2 linked regions of the Homo sapiens genome follow. The protein of the gene in region 1 purifies or fractionates together with the protein of each later gene. This does not show direct contact. Each region holds a gene or a part of one and is shown on either strand. Other genes may lie near its edges.

Evidence for each region.
Region 2: the proteins of SLC22A12 (region 1) and SMAP2 purify together in Homo sapiens (affinity purification with mass spectrometry; 2 studies listed by BioGRID and IntAct, with this or other methods). This does not show direct contact.

What each region holds. Positions count from the first base shown.
Region 1 is NC_000011.10:64,585,642-64,596,204, reverse strand, and holds the start of SLC22A12 (solute carrier family 22 member 12), read right to left. Parts: upstream 4,986-10,563; 5' UTR 4,649-4,985; coding exon 4,247-4,648; intron 3,427-4,246; coding exon 3,323-3,426; intron 2,801-3,322; coding exon 2,646-2,800; coding exon of another isoform or gene 2,571-2,645; coding exon 2,402-2,570; intron 1-2,401. UniProt on the Homo sapiens protein: Electroneutral antiporter that translocates urate across the apical membrane of proximal tubular cells in exchange for monovalent organic or inorganic anions. Involved in renal reabsorption of urate and helps maintaining blood levels of uric acid.
Region 2 is NC_000001.11:40,366,789-40,378,357, forward strand, and holds the start of SMAP2 (stromal membrane-associated protein 2), read left to right. Parts: upstream 1-6,938; 5' UTR 6,939-7,332; coding exon 7,333-7,435; intron 7,436-7,844; exon of another isoform or gene 7,845-7,907; coding exon of another isoform or gene 7,908-7,920; intron 7,921-8,958; exon of another isoform or gene 8,959-9,028; intron 9,029-11,569.

The sequences.
Region 1 (10,563 bases):
ATTCGACCATCCATCCATCCATCCATTCCATCTATTCCAACTATCCATCAATCCATCCATCCATCCCATCCATCCATCAATTCCATTCATCCATCCATTCCATCCATCCATCCATTCAACCATCAAACCATCCATCCATCCATCCATCTATCCATTCCATCTATTCCAACCATCCATCCATTCCATCCATCCATCCATCCATCCATCCATTCCATCTATTCCAACCATCCATCCATTCCATCCATCCATCCATCCATCCATCCATCCATCCATCCATCCATCTTTTCCAACCATCTATCCATTCATCTATTCCAACCATCCATCCATCCATTCCATCCATTCAACTATCCATCCATCCATCCATCCATCCATTCAACCGTCCATCCATCCATCTATTCCAATCATCTATCCATCCATCCATTCATCCATTCCAACCATCCATCCATCCATCTATTCCAACCATCCATCCATCCGTCTATTCCAACCATCCATCCATCCATCCATCTATTCCAACCATCCATCCATCCATCTATTACAACCATCCATCCTTTCATTCCACCCATTCAACCATCCATCCATCTATCCATCCATTCAACCATCCATCCATCCATCCCTCCTTCCATTCCATCCATCCATCCATTCCAACCATCCATCCATCCATCCATTCCAACCATCCATCCATCCATTCATTCCAACCATCCATCCATCCATTCCATCCATCCATCCATCTATTCCAAACATCCATCCATTCCATCCATCCATCATCCATCCATCCATCTATTCCAAACATCCATCCATCCATCCGTCCGTCCATCCATCCATCCATCCATCCATCCATCCATCCATCCATCCATTCAACCATCCATTCAACCATCCATCCATCCATCCATCCATCCATCCATCCATCCATCCAACCATCCATTCAACCATCCATCCATCCATCCATCCATTCCATCCATCCATCCATCCATCCATCCATCCATCCATCCATCTATTCCAAACATCCATCCATCCGTCCATCCATCCATCCATCCATCCATCCAACCATCCATTCAACCATCCATTCAACCATCCATCCATCCATCCATCCATCCATCCATCCATCCATCCTTTCCATCTATCCATCTATCCATCCATCCATCCATCCATCCATCCACCCATCCATCCATCCATCTATTCCAACCATCCATCCATCCATCCATCCATCCATCCATCCACCCATCCATCCATCCATCTATTCCAACCATCCATCCATCCATCCATCCAACCATCCATTCAACAATCCATCCATCCATTCCATCCATCCATCCATTCCATCCATCCATCCATTCCAACCATCCATCCATCCATTCCATCTGTCCATCCATCCGTCCGTCCATCCACCCATCCATCCATCCATTCATCCATCCATCCATTTATTCCAACTATCCATTCATCCATCCATCCATCCATCCATCCAACCGTCCGTCCGTCTGTCCGTCCATCCATCCATCCATCCATCCATCCATCCATCCATCCATCCGTCCATCCATCTATTCCAACCATCCATCCATCTATCCATCCATTCAACCATCCATTCAATTCATCTATACAATCCAATCCATCTATCCACCAACTCACCCATCCACTCATCCAATCCACACATCTGTCAACCCATTTATTTATCTGTCTCTATCTATCTACCTACCTACCTACCTACCTACCTACCTACCTACCTATCTATCTATTTCTACTTACCTAACAATTCATCCATTCAACAAATATTTATTTAGCACCTACTATGTGCCAGGTGCTCGGCAAGGGCCACGCCTGATTTGTTTCAGGGCAGTGCTGACATTTCCTAACCTCCCACACATGCCGGCCCTCTGTGGGGACTGTGGACTCCCCTCTGATGAGTGGATCCTGGTCCCTGTCTTCCAGCAGACAGACACAAGCATTGATTCTGTCAGCCCATGAAGCAGACTGCGGCTGTGCGCTGTGTGTGCGGGCATGTGTTGTATCTTTCCACTCGCTCCCCTAGCCTAGCTCAGTGCTGCCATGCCTGGCACACACAGAGGAGGGGCTCAGAAGATGGGCCTGGCAGCATAGATGCCAAGGCAGGCAGGGACAGGAGAGGAGAATAGGCCAAGAGATGAGGAGGAGGGAGGAAAAGAGAAGAATAAGTAGGAGAAGGAGCACTTGAGAGGAGCAGGGGAGGCGCCCTGGGGACCCAAGCCCTGGTTGAAGTGGGTGTCTTGGGTTTGTGGGTGGTACACTCTGCCACGCTCCTGGCTTTCCTCCAGCCCATGCACCCCTGGCCTCTAGCACTCCCCAGCCCCCAGGGAAAGGAGAGTCTCCCATTCCCCCGGGTGGAGAGTGGGCAGGATCTCCTCTGAGGAGGGGAGTGGGGCACAGCACCCACCAGGAGTACAAAAAGCAGAGGAAGAAGGGGACCGAGACCACCAGCTGCAGCAGTGTCCAGTCCCGCACACCGTAGGCCACTGCAGCTGTCAGGCCATGGCCGAAGCTGAAGCCCAGAGAGTTCAAGGTCATCACCAAGGGTCGGGCCCGTGCCGCCGTCCACTCCATCACTGCAAGGAGACCGAGTGGTTCAGCCCTGGAGCCTGCATGGAGCCCCCCTGCATGGCGCCAGGTCAGAGACCTACGGAGAGTGCCCGTGTTCATCATGACGCCTGCCACGGCAAAGGCCAACAGGAAGCGGAACAGGCAGTACACGGGGAAGGCAGGGGCGAAGGCAGCTGCCGTACCCATCACAGCCATCTGAAGGTAGCTCCAGGTTAGCACCAGCCTGCGCCCAAACCTGCGGCACAAACCAGGAAGAGGCAGGGTCTGTGGCTTGCCACGGCACAGGCCACGGGGCTCTGGAACACCTAGAGCCCACCCTATGCTTGCCCGCTGAGCTGAGGCGGACACTGAAGCGGCACCTGGGTGAAACCTACATTCTCCACCTACGGAACCCTCCGGAGCACAAGGAGAGTCCCGAGGCCAGAGCCAAAGGGAATGGGCTCCAGTCACCAGGAGCACTCAGGTTGCTGCTGAAGGAAGGCGCATGGCCAAGCCAGTTTTAGCAGTGAATGTTTGCTGGGGAGCAGAAATCCTCTACAACCCCCAGAGTAAAGTTGGTGAACTCGAGGTTCAGAGAAGGTTCCAGACCTCCCTACCTGGCACGGCTGCAGGGTGGCTGGTCCGAGACCCACACCCAGCAAGTAGGGCGCTTTCTAGACTTGGTTTTGTGAGGCTGGTTTGGGGCCAGTCGGCCAGGGTCCTAGGAGAGCAGGGGTTGTGAGGGGAACTGGGACCTGCCTGGACTGGGGGTACTCACCTGTCTGAGGCAGGGCCGCACGCAGCAGCTCCCACCAGAATCCCAGCCAGGTAGATGGACTGGGCCATGGGCTTCAGAGCATGAGAGTCACACACGAGGTTCCACTGATGGGAGAGGAGGAGGCTGAGCTCAGGAGGTTGGGAGAGCCCCAGCAGAGAGGCAGAGGAACCGCATGGGAGGGCCCCCAGGGAGCTGGGTGCGGTGGGTGGTCTGGTGACCTCTAGGGTTTTAGAGCAAGACCCTGTGGAACAGTGAGGGCACCCACAGGCATAGTTTGGCCTTTTGAGGAGTATATCCTGCCACCCTCTGCCTGAACTCTTCCATGGCTCCCTATTGCCCAATGGGTCTCTAGCCACATCTGCCCCTCTCTCCTGTCTCTCCACTTGGAAGCAGCCACCCAAGCTGACACCCTCACCCCTCTCCCAGAGGTTGCTTCCCTCCTGTTCTTTATAAAGAGGTTCTTCCCACTTGTTGGGATGAGCTGCCCCTCTCTGCTTGCCTGGCTTTGCCTGGCGCCCCATCTGGGAGGCAGCCTGGGGTAATCCCTTACTCTGTGTGCTTTGGTCTCGGGGAATCCAGTGAATTGTCACTGAGTCCCCCTGCTGCTGAGTTGCCTGGAGTCACGGCTGACAGGTCAGCAGGGCCAGGACAGGGTGAGGCCGGTGAGTGTCCAGGTGCCAGCATTTAGAGGTGCCCGCCCAGGTGCCCCCCGCACCTCCAAGAGCCTGGGCTGGCCCCATTTGTAGACTGATCCCTGCCGCCCACTTCCCTGTGTGTGGCTGACGAGGGGCTGAGAGGCTCGAGAGTGAGTGGGGCCTGGGGAGGTGGGTCCCTCCCAGGACTGGACCTTTGAGTCTGACCCACCGTGATCCATGACTGACCTCCAAGGTGGTGGGACTCGAGTGGCTCTGGGGGAGGCCCTACCTTGGCCACGATTGTGGAGGTGAAGATGCTGCGGTCATAGACCCAGCCATCCACACACGGCTCCGTGTCGGCCTCGCTCCAGCTGGTGGCCGTGGCATTGGGGTCCAAGAGCTGCCACTGTGGCTGGCGGAAGCGGCGGCACTGGTGGGGCCTCTGGTTGGGGCCCGGCGGGATGGAAATAGCCAGGAGGGCCTCAGGACTCAAGCTCCCTAGGATGCTGGCCTGAGCCGTGCTGTTGTCCAGGAGGGGTGCCCAGCAGCGGTGGCTGGGCACGGCGGCCGAGAAGTTCTCCAGCATGCTCTGGGTACACAGCCACATGATGGAGACCATCAGAGCCATCGTCTGGAGAACCTGGAACCTGCCCAGGCCACCCACGAGGTCCAGGAGTTCAGAAAATGCCATGGAACCTACTCAAGGGGCCCAGAAGAGGGGCCCACTTCACAAAGGCTGGCCCAGGGCAAAGAGGCCAGGGCAACGGGCCTGTTTCCCCCACGGTGGTGCCCACAGTGGCTTCTCCAGCCCAGCGGCTAGGCTTCACAGACTCGGGGCCGGAGGCTCAGGCTCTCTGGTCATCTGCCTGCTGGTGTCACTTGGGGTGGCTCCAACTGGGCCCTGAGGCCGCGTGAGGTGATTCCGAGACCTCCAGCATCTCCCCAGAGAGGCAGCTGCTCCAGACCTCCCGGGAAAGCTGAATTTGGAAAGTAGGGAATGTGGAGACTGAAGACTTTAATTTTAGACTGGAATTAAAGTGTGACCGGTGACACTTATGGAATCGAGTTTAGCAATCATTTCCTTGGTCAAAGTTTAACCCGCGTTGAGGCAGGCACAGACGCGAGGGAGGTGCAGCCTCCTCTGCTTGGGGGCCAGGGCCGGCCTGCTCTGTGCCAGGTCTTGGGGAGGCCTAAGTTTTTCTCCTGGCGGCTGTGGGATGCCAGGGCTGCCTGCTCCCTTCGGTGCCCCTGTGTGCCCACCTCCCAGAGTGGCTGAGCCAAGAGAAGGTGGGCCAGGGGATCCCCCTAATTTGGGGCTGGGGCAGCTGTGCAAGTCTCTGTGTGGGCTTGGGTCACTGGCAGCTGCCCAGCCCCTGCGCCTCCCAGGCTGTGTGGCCTGGCCCCACCCGTGGCTCCTGCCTCCACTCACCTGCTGTGGTTGGCGTCCTGTGCCCGCTTTGCTGTTACCCTGTCCTGAGTCCTCGGTGGAGCTTCCCAGCATCAACAGACACCCCACAGACTCCCCAGGTTCGGTGTGCCCAATGCCACCCTGAGATCTCTGTCCCCTCCCCAAATCTATGCCTCCTGCAGAGCCCCACCTCAGCTATGGCCTCTCATGTCACAGTGTCTGGCCTGGAACCCAGCGTCTTGGTTCACGCCTCCTGCTCCCTGCCTCCCAAATCCACCAGGGGCCAAGCCTGGCTAGTTTTGCCTCCTAAGGATTTCTCTCTCCCACCTCCCCCACTCCACAGCTGTCCCTGCCCTTGTCTTTCTGCCTCAACTCCTGCCCCTGGACCCACCACGCACTGCGAGCCCTTGGGTCAAATCCTGCTTAAAAGCCAAGGGGCTCCCAGTCAACAACAGCTAGTGGTGACTTACTAGGGCAGGTGAGTGGACAGCAGTGTGTGCTGATGCAGGGTGTGGGGTTCAGGAAAGGCTGGACCGAGGCCAAGAGAACCCCCTTGGTCTCGATAGCTAATTCTGTAGGCGAAAGGGCCAGAGAACACAAAGCAGTTAAAAAGTGTGTGTGCATGGCCGGGCGTGGTGGCTCATGCCTGTAATCCCAGCACTTTGGGAGGCCGAGGTGGGGGGATCACTTGAGGTCAAGAGTTCAAGACCAGCTTGGCCAACATGGCAAAAACCCATCTCTACTAAAAATACAAAAGTTAGCTGAGCATGGTCGTGGTGCACAGCTGTAATTCCAGCTACTTGGGAGGCTGAGGCAGGAGAATCTCTTGAACCCAGGAGGCAGAGGTTGCAGCAAGCTGAGATTGCACCACTGCCCTCCAGCCTGGTTGACAGAGAAAGACTCTTATCTCAAAAAAAAAAAAAAAAAGAAAAGAAAAAAAAGAAGTGTATGTATATGTGGGTGTGTGCACATGTCTGTGTATGTGTGCACATGTGTTTGCACAAGTGCATGTGTGTACATGTGTGCATGCGTATATGTGCAGTGCAGCAGTGATGGCAACCCAGGTGTTTGCTCTTATGAGCTTTGGGCATAAAACTCTCCATTTGAGGCATAAATGCCCCTCCCATCTGCTTCTTTTTGCTTCACCGACTCTTCCCGCTGCCCCTCCACATGGCTTACCAAGCCAACTTCTTTGCCTCCCTGGGCTCTGCACCTTGAGTCATCCACTGCTTCCACCACATGCCCTGTACATGCTTTCTCAGTTCCCACCCTTGCTTATGTTGGACCTCCAGCCTGGAATGCTGTCTCCAGGCTCACCCTTAGGCCACATACTGTGTGGAATGGGCACAGTCCAAATACTCCTCCTCCAGCGGGCTCTCTTCACTTATTCCTGCCTACAACTAGGGCTCAGAGTTGTCAGTGGAATCTCATCTTTACACTGTCCTGCATTCTTCTCAAACTCCTGACCTCAGGTGATCTGCCTGCCTTGGCCTCCCAAAGTGGTGTGAGTTGCGGCACCCAGCCATGACCTGCATTCTTCTATTATGGTCCAGTTGGTCTTATTTCCAGTGAGCTCCTGGTAGTCTGGAACCCTTCTTTAGAGGCTCTTTGGAACTGATTTGGACAACAAATAAAGGTTCCATGGAGACTTGCTGAAGTGCATGGATGATTTTTTTAAAAATTTCATTTATTTTCTAATTATGAAATAATTTACACACTTCCTCAAAAATTCAGAACATATTGAAATGAAAATAAAGATCCCTCATATACTCATCAACCAGTGAGTTACACTACTGTTTACAGTTTGGTGTAAATATGTGCAGACTTTGTTTTAGTAACTGATATGTTTAGCTTCATCAGCTTGAGCTGCCAAATAAGCTTTACATTTCCTTTTGTAAAATCCAAAAGAAATACCTCTGCCTTTTAATTAGCGATTTTAACCTGTTCACATTTATTGTAATTATTGACATGTTTGGACTTACTGTATGTTTTCTTGTTTACCACATTTTCCCTTTAAATCTTGGTTTCCTTGTTCCTAATTTCTACTGAATCCATTAAGTTTTCTTGTTATATTCTTCTACTGTCTTGGTCTGTCAGTTGTACGTTTTATTTCTGTTACCCTTATATTTGAACACACAAACCAGGGGTTATTTGATACCATCTTCTCTCTTCAAACCTACCACCTTCTCTTCTATCCTCTCTCTCAATAGATGACCTTTTTTCTTATTTCACTAAAACAATAGAAGCCATCAGAAGCCAACAGTCTAATTCTCTCACCAGCTCACCTGCCTTGGTGCCCCCACATTCTGCCTTCCTTCCACCCAGTTTGGTTTCTCTCTCATCCATGCCAACCCCTCACTGTGTGCCTAGAGCCCACCCCCCTTTGCCTGCTCACATCTCTCTTTGGCATTTGTCTTTCCCTCGCTACTGGATAATTTCCACCAATGTACAAATATGCCATTTTTTTCTGTAGCCTTCCAAAAACTCCCCCTCCATTTGAGCCCCTCTTTCTTCTTAAGCGACTGCCCCACCTTTGCTTGTATTTACAACAAAATTCTATGAAAGTATTATTGACACTCATTTCCAGTTTCTGTCTTCCCATTTTTTTGTTTGTTTTTGGATTCATTCCCATCAAGGTTTTGCCCCTATCACTCTGCTGTCACCAATGACCTCCATGCTGCTAGATTCAATGACATTTTCAGTCCTCATCTTACTTGAGCCATCTGTCTCTGATCTCCATCTGAGAATACTTTCTTCCCTGGGCCTCCAGGACTCACTAGTTCTCAATCTTCTTGGTTGGGTTTTCCTCTTCTCCACACACTGTTAACATTGGAGGCCACTGAGCTCACTCCTTGGTCTTCTCTATATTCTCTATCATCTGGTCCATTCACATCTTTAGCCTGTACCTCTTCTTGGAATGCTAGATTTTGATCCAACTGCCTAATCTTAGGTGCTTAATAAACATCTCACACTTAGTGTGGCCAAAGCTGAGCTCTCCCAAAAAAATGCTTCTCATGCAGCTTTCTCCACTTTTTTTTTTTTAAGTTGAGTCAGAGTCTTGCTCTGTTGCCCAGGCTGGAGTGCAGTGGCGCCATCTTGGCCCATTGCAGTCTCCACTGCCCAGGTTCAAGCAATTCTCATGCCTCAGCCTCCTAAGTAGCTGGGTCTATAGGCATGTGCCACCATGCCCAGCTAATTTTTGTATTTTTAATATCGATGGGGTTTCACCATGTTGGCCAGGCTGGTCTCGAACTCCTGGCCTCAACTGATCTGCCCACCTCGGCCTCCCAAAGTACTGGGATTATAGGCATGAGCCACTGCACCCAGCCCCAAATCACCAGCATTTTAATTTCAGAATGTGTAATTTCCATTTCAGAATCCGTGTTTGGTTCTTCCTATAACTGCTTCTTCTTGTTTCCTAGTTTCCACTTCTTGTTTCATAGGTGGAATAATTTCCTTGATCTCTTAGTGGATATTACGAGTGTTTCTCTTGGGCCAGGCGTGGTGGCTCACGGCCGGAATCCCAGCACTTTGGGAGGCCGAGGCGAGTGGATCACTTGAGGTCAGGAGTTTGAGACCAGCCTGGCCAACATGGGGAAACCCTGCCTCTAGTAAAAATACAAAAATTAGCCAGAGGTGGTGGCACACACCTGTAATCCCAGCTACCAGGGTTGCTGAGGCAGGAGAATTGCTTGAATCCATGAGGCGGAGGTTGCAGTGGAGCCAAGATCACGCCACTGCACTCCAGCCTGGGTGACAGAGCAAGATTCTGTCTCAAAAAAAAAAAAAAAAAAAAAAGAAGAGTGTCTTTCTTCTTAATATCAATATTCATTTGTTGAGCTGAGTGTTGATAATGCACCAGCCACTGCTCTAGGCACAGGGATGCAGCGGTGAACAAACAAGATAATTCCCTGTTCTCATTGATATGTAGAAAGACATGCCAATGAGAGAGGAGAAACACATCAAGAAATAAATGAATATAGTGACAAGTAGTAATCATGCTGTGGAGAGAACAAGATAGCATAAGGGGCAGAGAGTAAGGATCATGTTGCCACTTTGGGTGGGGCAGTCAGGGAAGACTTCTCTGTGGAGGTGGCATTGAAAGAGACCCAAGTAGATGAGGGGACAAGACACACAGTTGACTGGGGAAAGAATATTGCAGGCAGAGGGAAGAGTATTATGCAAAGACCCTGGGGTGGGCATGTGATTTTATGCTCAAGAAGTAGGAAGGAGGCCAGTATGGTTGGGGAGAAGTGAGTGGGAAAAGTAGAGCAGTTTTGGGGCCAAAACATACACTTCCTTATAGGGTTTTGAGGAGAGAAGTGGCATGATCTGACTAATGTTTTTACAAATCTCCCTGGCTGCTGTGTGGAGAACAGACTGAAAATGGGACAAATATAGAAGAAGGGGTTCCCCCAGGAGGCTGTTGGGGTGGATCATGTGAGCAATGAGGGTCAGGGCTAGGGGATTAGGGCAGGTGGAGAGAAATGCTTGGGTTTGGGGCATATTGCTTTTCTTTGACTAAATACAGGGCCGAGGGTGAAGAAAAAGGATAAACTGATGATCAGGTGGGTGGTGGGTGGATGGTGGGCCATTTACAGAGAAGCAGAACACTCGGGGAGAAGCAAGTTTGATGGGAAAATAAATCTTTTTTTGTGTGATGATATTGACATGTCTATTAGCCATCCAGGTGGTGGCATCATGGAGCGACTTGGGAATAATTAGGGGATAAAAGGCATTTTAAGTCACAGGACTGGATAAGCTCACGTAGGGTGCAAGCTTTCATAGCAAAGAGATGACGTTTGTGATGGAGCCTTTGGTCTCTGATGTTGAGAGGTCAGTAAGAGGATGACCCAGCAAAAGAGCTGTGAAGGCAAAACCAGTGAGGCCTGGAAACCAGGACAGCAGGATGCCCCGGAAGCCAGAGTGAAAAGTATCTGACAGAGTCAATCAGCAATGTCACATCCTTGGCCGGGCGCGGTGGCTCACGCCTGTAATCCCAGCACTTTGGGAGGCTGAGGCAGGTGAATCACCTGAGGTCAGAAGTTCGAGACCAGCCTGGCCAACATGGTGAAACCCTGTCTCTACTAAAAATACAAAAAATTAGCCAGGCATGGTGGCACATGCCTGTAATCCCAGCTACTCAGGAGGCTGAGGCAGGAGAATTTCTTGGACCTGGGAGGCAGACGTTGTGGTGA
Region 2 (11,569 bases), on another chromosome or scaffold:
ATCAACTAACGAGCAAAATCACCAGCTAACATCATAATGACAGGATCAAATTCACACATAACAATATTAACTTTAAATGTAAATGGACTAAATGCTCCAATTAAAAGACACAGACTGGCAAATTGGATAAAGAGTCAAGACCCATCAGTGTGCTGTATTCAGGAAACCCATCTCACGTGCAGAGACACACATAGGCTCAAAATAAAAGGATGGAGGAAGATCTACCAAGCAAATGGAAAACAAAAAAAGGCAGGGGTTGCAATCCTAGTCTCTGATAAAACAGACTTTAAACCAACAAAGATCAAAAGAGACAAAGAAGGCCATTACATAATGGTAAAGGGATCAATTCAACAAGAAGAGCTAACTATCCTAAATATATATGCACCCAATACAGGAGCACCCAGATTCATAAAGCAAGTCCTGAGTGACCTACAAAGAGACTTAGACTCCCACACAATAATAATGGGAGACTTTAACACCCCACTGTCAACATTAGACAGATCAACGAGACAGAAAGTCAACAAGGATACCCAGGAATTGAACTCAGCTCTGCACCAAGCGGACCTAATAGACATCTACAGAACTCTCCACCCCAAATCAACAGAATATACATTTTTTTCAGCACCACACCACACCTATTCCAAAATTGACCACATACTTGGAAGTAAAGCTCTCCTCAGCAAATGTAAAAGAACAGAAATTATAACAAACTATCTCTCAGACCACAGTGCAATCAAACTAGAACTCAGGATTAAGAATCTCACTCAAAGCCGCTCAACTACATGGAAACTGAACAACCTGCTCCTGAATGACTACTGGGTACATAACGAAATGAAGGCAGAAATAAAGATGTTCTTTGAAACCAACGAGAACAAAGACACAACATACCAGAATCTCTGGGATGCATTCAAAGCAGTGTGTAGAGGGAAATTTTTAGCACTAAATGCCCACAAGAGAAAGCAGGAAAGATCCAAAATTGACACCCTAACATCACAATTAAAAGAACTAGAAAGCAAGAGCAAACACATTCAAAAGCTAGCAGAAGGCAAGAAATAACTAAAATCAGAGCAGAACTGAAGAAAATAGAGACACAAAAAACCCTTCAAAAAATCAGTGAATCCAGGAGCTGGTTTTTTGAAAGGATCAACAAAATTGATAGACCGCTAGCAAGACTAATAAAGAAAAAAAGAGAGAAGAATCAAATAGACACAATAAAAAATGATAAAGGGGATAGCACCACCGATCCCACAGAAATACAAACTACCATCAGAGAATACTACAAACACCTCTACGCAAATAAACTAGAAAATCTAGAAGAAATGGATAAATTCCTCGACACATACACTCTCCCAAGACTAAACCAGGAAGAAGTTGAATCTCTTAATAGACCAATAACAGGAGCTGAAATTGTGGCAATAATCAATAGCTTACCAACCAAAAAGAGTCCAGGACTAGATGGATTCACAGCCGAATTCTACCAGAGGTACAAGGAGGAACTGGTACCATTCCTTCTGAAACTATTCCAATCAATAGAAAAAGAGGGAATCCTCCCTAACTCATTTTATGAGGCCAGCATCATTCTGATACCAAAGCCGGGCAGAGACACAACAAAAAAAGAGAATTTTAGACCAATATCCTTGATGAACATTGATGCAAAAATCCTCAATAAAATACTGGCAAACCGAATCCAGCAGCACATCAAAAAGCTTATCCACCATGATCAAGTGGGCTTCATCCCTGGGATGCAAGGCTGGTTCAATATACGCAAATCAATAAATGTAATCCAGCATATAAACAGAACCAAAGACAAAAACCACATGATTATCTCAATAGATGCAGAAAAAGCCTTTGACAAAATTCAACAACCCTTCATGCTAAAAACTCTCAATAAATTAGGTATTGATGGGACGTATTTCAAAATAATAAGAGCTATCTATGACAAACCCATAGCCAATATCATACTGAATGGGCAAAAACTGGAAGCATTCCCTTTGAAAACTGGCACAAGACAGGGATGCCCTCTCTCACCACTCCTATTCAACATAGTGTTGGAAGTTCTGGCCAGGGCAATTAGGCAGGAGAAGGAAATAAAGGGTATTCAATTAGGAAAAGAGGAAGTCAAATTGTCCCTGTTTGCAGATGACATGATTGTATATCTAGAAAACCCCATTGTCTCAGCCCAAAATCTCCTTAAGCTGATAAGCAACTTCAGCAAAGTCTCAGGATACAAAATCAATGTACAAAAATCACAAGCATTCTTATACACCAACAACAGACAAACAGAGAGCCAAATCATGAGTGAACTCCCATTCACAATTGCTTCAAAGAGAATAAAATACCTAGGAATCCAACTTACAAGGGATGTGAAGGACCTCTTCAAGGAGAACTACAAACCACTGCTCAAGGAAATAAAAGAGGATACAAACAAATGGAAGAACATTCCATGCTCATGGGTAGGAAGAATCAATATTGTGAAAATGGCCATACTGCCCAAGGTAATTTACAGATTCAATGCCATCCCCATCAAGCTACCAATGACTTTCTTCACAGAATTGGAAAAAACTACTTTAAAGTTCATATGGAACCAAAAAAGAGCCCACATCGCCAAGTCAATCCTAAGCCAAAAGAACAAAGCTGGAGGCATCACACTACCTGACTTCAAACTTTACTACAAGGCTACAATAACCAAAACAGCATGGTACTGGTACCAAAACAGAGATATAGATCAATGGAACAGAACAGAGCCCTCAGAAATAACGCCGCATACCTACAACTGTCTGATCTTTGACAAACCTGAGAAAAACAAGAAATGGGGAAAGGATTCCCTATTTAATAAATGGTGCTGGGAAAACTGGCTAGCCATATGTAGAAAGCTGAAACTGGATCCCTTCCTTACACCTTATACAAAAATCAATTCAAGATGGATTAAAGATTTAAACGTTAGACCTAAAACCATAAAAACCCTAGAAGAAAACCTAGGCATTACCATTCAGAACATAGGCATGGGCAAGGACTTCATGTCCAAAACACCAAAAGCAATGGCAACAAAAGACAAAATTGACAAATGGGATCTAATTAAACTAAAGAGCTTCTGCACAGCAAAAGAAACTACCATCAGAGTGAACAGGCAACCTACAAAATGGGAGAAAATTTTCGCAACCTACTCATCTGACAAAGGGCTAATATCCAGAATCTACAATGAACTCAACCAAATTTACAAGAAAAAAACAAACAACCCCATCAAAAAGTGGGCAAAGGACATGAACAGACACTTCTCAAAAGAAGACATTTATGCAGCCAAAAAACACATGAAAAAATGCTCATCATCACTGGCCATCAGAGAAATGCAAATCAAAACCACAATGAGATACCATCTCACACCAGTTAGAATGGCAATCATTAAAAAGTCAGGAAACAACAGGTGCTGGAGAGGATGTGGAGAAATAGGAACACTTTTACATTGTTGGTGGGACTGTAAACTAGTTCAACCATTGTGGAAGTCAGTGTGGCGATTCCTCAGGGATCTAGAACTAGAAATACCATTTGACCCAGCCATCCCATTACTGGGTATATACCCAAATGACTATAAATCATGCTGCTATAAAGACACATGCACACGTATGTTTATTGCGGCATTATTCACAATAGCAAAGACTTGGAACCAACCCAAATGTCCAACAATGATAGACTGGATTAAGAAAATGTGGCACATATACACCATGGAATACTATGCAGCCATAAAAAATGATGAGTTCATGTCCTTTGTAGGGACATGGATGAAATTGGAAATCATCATTCTTAGTAAACTATCACAAGAACAAAAAACCAAACACCGCATATTCTCACTCATAGGTGGGAATTGAACAATGAGATCACATGGACACAGGAAGGGGAATATCACACTCTGGGGACTGTGGTGGGGTAGGGGGAGGGGGGAGGGATAGCATTGGGAGATATACCTAATGCTAGATGACGAGTTAGTGGGTGCAGCGCACCAGCATGGCACATGTATACATATGTAACTAACCTGCACAATGTGCACATGTACCCTAAAACTTAAAGTATAATAAAAAAAAAAAAAAAAGAAAAGAAAATTCTATAACTGGCCAGGCGCGGTGGCTCATGCCAGTAATCCTAGTACTTTGGGAGGCTGAGGTGGGCGGGTCACGAGGTCAGGAGATTGAGACCATCCTGGCTAACAGGGTGAAACCCTGCCTCTATTAAAATACAAAAAATTAGCCAGGAGTGGTGGCACGTGCCTGTAGTCCTAGCTACTTGGGAGGCTGAGGCAGGAGAATTGCTTGAACCTGGGAGGCGGAGGTTGCAGTGAGCCGAGATCGCACCACTGCACTCCAGCCTGGCGACAGAGCGAGACTCGGTCTCAAAAAAAAAAATTTTATAACTAATGTGGAAACAGTTTTATGATAAGATAACATGTGCATGATGGAACAGAGTGAACATTTTTGCAAGACTAGTCAAAGCAAAATTCAAGACTTCAAAAAAAAAAATGTGTACTTGGGAGGAGCAGTTTGCTTTGTTTATATCCTCAGACCCTGGGCTATGCACTCACTTTACTCTGCTATTAGTAATGATAATAAAAAGAGCTAATACTTGATGTATCTGCTAGGATAGGCTAGCTTATACAGTGGTAAACAAACAAAACTCAATGGCAACACAATGCTTATTTCTTGCTTATGCTAAGTTATCCTCTATGGGCTGGCAGAGAGCTCTTGTTTATCAGCTACACAGAAATCCAGGCTAATAGAGCAACCAACATCTTCAGCATCAATAGTTGCCATGCCAGAGGGAAAGAGAAGCACAAGAGGCTCAAAGCAACAAATAAATGCTTCAGAGACAAAGTAATCCATCCTTTCTGCTCAAACTCATTGGTCTTTCCCAATCACTTGAAGGCCAGGAAATAAAATCCTACCATGTGCTCAGAAGGCAAAACGCCAGAAATATTTAGTGAAGAGCGCTAATTGTCTATCATTCACTATCTACCAAGGGCTGTTCTAATTATATTACAGGCATTATCTCAGCTAAGCCTCATAATAATCTTGTGAAATAGGTACTATTAATGTTATCATCATTCCCATTCTATAGATGAAATAACTGAGGCACCAAGAGGCTAAGTAACCTGCTCAAAGTCACACAGATAATAGGTGGTAAAAGCTGAAGATTTAAACTTAAGCATTCTTGCCCCAGAGTCTGTGTGCTTAACCACAAAGCCATGAGATCTCTCACTAGGTGGGAACAATTTGAGAAACACTGCCATAGGCAATGGAGAGCCACTAAAGGATTTTTTAAGCAGGAAGTGTGAGTCCATCAGAATTGGCATTTAAAAGCTCCCTCTAGAGAGCACGGTGAAGGATTAATTTAACCAGATTTAGACTAAGGCAGGAAGGCTATTTGCAGAGTGAGGAGATGAAGATGGGGAGGGCTTGAACTAAGGTACAATCACCACTCACCGCAATTAACTGGGTTTTGTTGTTGTTGTTGTTGTTTGAGACAGGGTAACGGGGTACATTGGGGGTTGGAGGGGTGGTTCTTACTGTGTTGCCCAGGCTGGATTCCAACTCCTGGGCTCAAGTGATGCTCTGGCTCTGGCATCCTGAGTAGCTAGGACTACAGGTATGTGCCACCACACCCAGTAACTAGTTAATCTTGACTGTCTATTTCAACTGAAAAATGGTTATGGTAATACCTACTTGGATGGGTTTTCTGAGGAAAAACACCCCAATGAACTTGTGTGTTTTTAAAAGTCAAGTCCCCTAGGCATGGCTAGAAGGGAAGAGGCTTAGCCAGAAAATTTAATTGTTGTGATTAATAAAGTAATAGAAATGTTTAGTTTTCCTCTGATGAGATGAAAGCTTTGAGGGGATCCTGGTCTTGGGAGAAAGTAAAGAAATGGAGGAGAGGGTTTCACCAGAGTTTAGATAACTCTTAGCATCTGCTTACTATCTTCCCTGATTAATTATTTCCATGGCAGCCAGAGTGACCTTTTAAAACCACAAATCGGATCATGCTGTTTCCCTCTCCCCTAGTACAGTGCCTGATACTTAGAAATTTCTCAGTAACATCGTGCTCAGTGAATGAATGAATGAATGAGTGAATGAAAACACAAGCCAGATGGCAGGTGGATCCCTAAGGAAAAGGACAGCCAATGAGAAATTATCTGTAGCAACGGTGGCTTTGGATGATGATGTTTAATAATCATTTTTAAGGAGTTGCCTGTTGTGTGCTATGCTTTAATCACTGTCCCCCACCCTTCCCAAATAACGTTCAGTAAAAGTCTGCCACAAAAAACTCGCTGTTTTGTGAGAATTTAAGAAATGGAAGAAGAAACAAACTGTCTGGGCACCAGGCCAAACAATATCCAAAAAGGCAGGAGTCACAGAGGAGAGCTAATGAGTATTAGTGGGAGCAGGTATTCCAAGTGAGAGGTGACCAGAGTCCTCTGAAAATGTGGGGAGGGGGTGACGTTCCTATATCCTGGGTTAGGGGCTTGGACTCTTATATTTGGCTGTTGGAAAAAACAAGCTGGAGGACTTTGGGGTATCAACAACCCTCAGGTTACATAAGGATGATCATAGGGTCGTTGTGAGGATTATGTTGGGATAGTTCATGCAAAGCGCTTAACACAGTGCCTAGCGCATAGTAAGAGCTCAGTAAATGTTAGTTGTTGTCTTCCTTCACTTTCTTCCATTCCCTCCACTCCCTTTCTACCAGGCTCCATTCATTCTCTTCCAAGGACACGCAGGGGGCGTGCCCACCCCTTCCCTCCGCCCCCACCCAAGGCCCGCCCCCCGCTTCTCCACGGATTGGTTCCCGAGAGGCGGAGCTGAAGGAAGAGCCCAGTGCGGCGCGGTGGGGGCGGGGCGCATGCGCGAGCTGGGCAGGGTGGAGGTGGGGAGGAAGAGCTGCCGGAAGTAGGCGGTGGAGGTGGTAGCGGAGCTGACGGCAGCTGCCAGGGAAACCGAGGCGCGGGACGCAAGGCCAGCAGACAGGCCGGCCAGAGGGTCATCTGCGTCCGGCACCCAGGAGGCTCGTGGTCCGCCTTTGCCTGGGCTGAGGGTCTCTGGCCCCGCAGCCTCTCTTGGAGGCGGGCCTGTCCCTAAGCCCGCCAAGGGGCGCCGCGCCGAGGGGCTGCGGAGTGGGGGACGGACGCCCCCGACCCGGGAAGGGGCGTCCGGCGGGGCCGGAGGAGAGGGCTCTCCCCGCTCAGGAGGTGCCCCTGGGCGGGGGACCGGGAGTCCTCAACCCCGGACTGAGGCAGGGGTCTCTGGGGGCGAGGAGGGCGCGTCGCCCTCTGCCCCCGCCGGCACCCTGGCCATGACAGGCAAGTCGGTGAAGGACGTGGATCGGTACCAGGCTGTCCTGGCCAACCTGCTGCTGGAGGAGGATAACAAGTTTTGTGCAGATTGCCAGTCTAAAGGTAGCGCATCCCACCTGGCGGGCCAGGGGTCCAGCCGCGCCGGGGTGGTGGGGGTGGGCTGCGTGAAGAGGCGGTTTCTGAAGCTTAGGCCGCCCAACTCGGCTTATAAGTGGTAACGCGTGCTGCGCTTGCAGTGAGCCTACTGGGCTTTCTGCAGCTGGGGGATTGGTATGGGTAGAGCTTGCGAGGGCGAGTCTGTGTGTGTCGGGGAGGGTGGAGGTGATGGTGCGGGTGGAAGTTGCCTGGCGTGTTCAGGTGAGAATGTCTGTATTTGAGGGCTCTGAATGAGTTCTGGGCCGGCTGTCCAGAGAGAGCTCCCAGCATGTCACTTGCAAAGCTGGGGATGAACTGCATTGCGTGCGTGCGTGCGTGCGTGTGTGTGTGTGTGTGTGTGTGTGTGTGAGAGAGAGAGAGAGAGAATGACGAGGAGGAGGAGGAGGGAAGTGAGATGGCGGAAAGGAAAACTGCTTAAATGATTTTTAAAGGTGGTGATTTTTGCTTCCTGCTATTTGGTTAGCAACTCCTGTCATTTTGCAGCCTTGCTAAGATCTGACAAGAGTGCTTAGGTGACTTTATTCTTCTGGATGTGTGCAGTGGGAAACTGCCTTATGCAGTGACACAGTGCGGATTTCTAGGCAGTGTAGCCCTGGCTTGTAGAGTGCGTTGGAGGCCTATGTATGAGTGGTGGCAGAAACTAGCCGATTATGCCTGTAGTGCAGGATCCGTTTAATCAGTGGAGAGAGAAAGATGAATTCGATGAATTCATTGCTTCCATGGCGATTACACTTCTAAAGGTGAAATATGATCATTGTAAATTGGCAGAACCATTTAGTCTTTGTTTTCTGTGCCCTAGAAGATTCATGATTTGATACAATTAAAAGTCAGTACAATAGGAAATCTTGGTTATTAGTGAAATGTTGGCACTTGACATTTATACAAGCTTCTATGAATCTTTTTTTCCTGTATTTTCTAATTCTTTTGGCATATAATTGGAGGATTGGGAAAATTATTTTCCCTTTGGTTGGGTCGAAATGGATAGTTATATTTTGGGGGCGACAATTTACTTTTGTTCATAATGCAGTGGATTTGCCATGGTTGTTTGCCGTACAGCGTAGTGGGCATATACTATAAAACAAAGATTCAGTTATATTCGTATTTATCTATTTTGAGAAAGGAAGGACATATTTAATTGATGCTTTCACTTAATTACCTTTTATTTTTGAAGAATAAGGTTATAAAAGGAGAACAGGGGAGGGATACATAGACACCTAGTAATGTATTTTAGTGACCTCTACCAACAGATAAATGGAATGTGCCATTAGGAAAACAAATTCCTAGACTTCTTTCCTGAATTTTTGCATTAGCAATAATTCATTTTAAAAAGTATTTTAGAATCAATTTATGTTGAGTAGGTTAGCTTCTTGATTCTTGTTACATCTTCTGTTAGGTCTATTGGAAGATTTGGTTTATTTTAGGAGTGTATCTTGGCTTTATTCAAATTCCCTTATGTCCTCATTTGACAGATCTTGAGTCACAGTGAAGCAACCCACTGGAGTGAGCATTGCTGCATTTGGAGAGTCAGATGCCATTTTGGTGACTAGAACCCCCCCCCCCATTTCTCATATTACCCTTATACTTACTCATATTCCAATAAAATACAGCACATGGAAGAGAGAGGCTGATTCACTACTTCTTCCTCCAAATTTCCATTGCTTTTTATTTATTTTATTTTTTATTTTTATTTTTTGAGACAGTTTCGCTTTGTCGCCCAGGCTGGAGTGCAATGGTGCAATCTCGGCTCACTGCAACCTCTGCCTCCCGGGTTCAAGTGATTCTCCTGCCTCAGCCTCCCGAGTACCTGGGATTACAGGCGCCCGCCACCATGCCCAGCTGATTTTTGTATTTTTAGTAGAGACAGGGTTTCACCATGTTGGCCAGGCTGGTCTTGAACTCCTGACCTCAGGTGATCCACCCGCCTCAGCCTTCCAAAGTGCTGGGATTACAGGTGTGAGCCACCATGCCCAGCCCGAAATTTCCGTTGCTTTTTATTAATAAGCTTACTGGGGATCAGGTTATGAAATATCAGTTAATTCTTAATGAGAACTAGTAACTGCTGGCTTGTAAACTTTATTAACTACTGTTGATGGTAGAATCCTGGATCCTCAATTTCTTTTCAGAAGTTCGTTTTACATTTTACCAGGTGGCTTCAGGGACTTGGTCATTGTATTAAAAATGAGATGACAATGGGTCAGTCATCTTTAGATTATGACAAATAGGCATTTGTTGAGGCCTCTGTTTATCCAATTTATGAATTACCTATCCCATTCCACCCCTCCAAGCCCTCTCACTCTTTTTCCCCTGCTGTTTTCTAATTTTGGTTGTCATAATGATCATTTGGACAACTATCAGATTGTTGAAGGAAAAGACGTTTGGATCAATAAATTGTTACCTGTTAGCGCTGATAAAAAATACATTTCATTGGAGGAGGAATTTAAAAAGTGTTGGCTAAAATGAGAATTGGGTTTCAGTTTATTTACCTGTATTCCTGTGTCCTTTCCTAAAAAATTGGAAGTTAACTGTACAGGATATGGTGAGTGATTGCTCATCTATTAATATCCAGTTAGATGATGTGGCATAGACTATCGACCTATGAGCAGGTATTTTTGCAATGTTCCAAAATATAACTCTTTGGCAATGACTTTTATTTTTAAATTCTTATACTTATTTAGGAACATTTATTAGTTGACTTTCAAGGTATGTGATTTAAACTTCGGAATAGAGGCTGGGTGTGGTGGCTCAAACCTGTAATCCCAGCACTTTGAGAGGCCAAGGAGGGAGGATCACTTGAGTCCAGGAGTTCAAGACCAGCCTGGGCAACATAGTGTGACCTTGTCTCTACAAATAGTTAAAAAATTAGCTGGGTGTGGTGTTGTGCATCTGTGGTCCCAGCTACTCAGGAGGCTGAGGCAGGAGGATCACCTGGGCAACTGAGCCCAGGAGGTCGAAGCTGCAGTGGGCCATGATTGAGTGCCACTGCGCTGCAGCCTGGGTCAGAGAGCAAGACCCTGTCTCTAAAACAAAACACAACAAATAAACATCAGAATAGAGAACAAGCTTGTGTTCTTTTTACTTCGTACAAGTTTTGTTGATCCTGGGGTTTTTAACTGTCCTGGGCACGAGTCTTACCAGTTTCTGGGACCACTAAACCATTCCAGTAATTTCAGTGTGGGAAAGGAAACTGCTTTGGGGCTGCCTATTTAAGAAATGCTATGATTCTCTCTAGGCTCAAGATGTGATTTCTTCATTACCCAAAGCCCTGGGGTTAATGTGACTTTTAGGGTGAACTTTTGGACTAACTTAGGTAGTGATAGAACAGAGGACAAAACTACTGAAAATTCCAGATATGTCAATGGTAACTCTGGCTGATTGAGGCTGGGTTCCATTTTTGGGTATGGGTCATACTTCCTTTGTACTTGGGGTCATACTGGTCCAAGTTTTAACTTCTAGCTCAGCAGTTCCAGATTTTATCAGTGTGTCAGGAATAATTGCTAAGCCACCCCGTCAGAGACTGTGTTTTAAACTGGACACTATCTTATTTACCATGAAAGGATCTACAGTTGTCCTTTGGTATCCAGGGGGGATTGGTTCCAGGAACCTTCTGGGGTACTAAAATCCACAGATGCTCAAGTCCCTGATATAAATGTTGTAGTGCTTGCATATAACTTATACACATCCTCCCTTATACTTTAAATCATCTCTAGATTACTTATAATATCTAATACAATGTTAATGCTATGCCAGTAGTTGTTACTCTGTATAATTTAGGGAATAATGAGAAGGAAAAAAGTCTGCACATGTTCTGTACAGATGCAACCATTCATTTTTTACTGAATATTTTCTTTCCTTTTTATTTTTTTTAGAGACGGGGTCTTGCTCTGCCACCCAGGCTGGAGTGCAGTGGTGCGATTATAGCTCACTGTAGCCTCAGACTCCTGGGCTCAAGCTGTCCTCCCACTTAGCCTCCCAAAGTGCTGGGACTACAGGCGTGTGCCACGGGGCCCAGCCATTTTTTCGAATATTTTCAATCTGCAGTTGTTTGAATCCACAGATGCAGAACCCATTTCTAATGGAGGG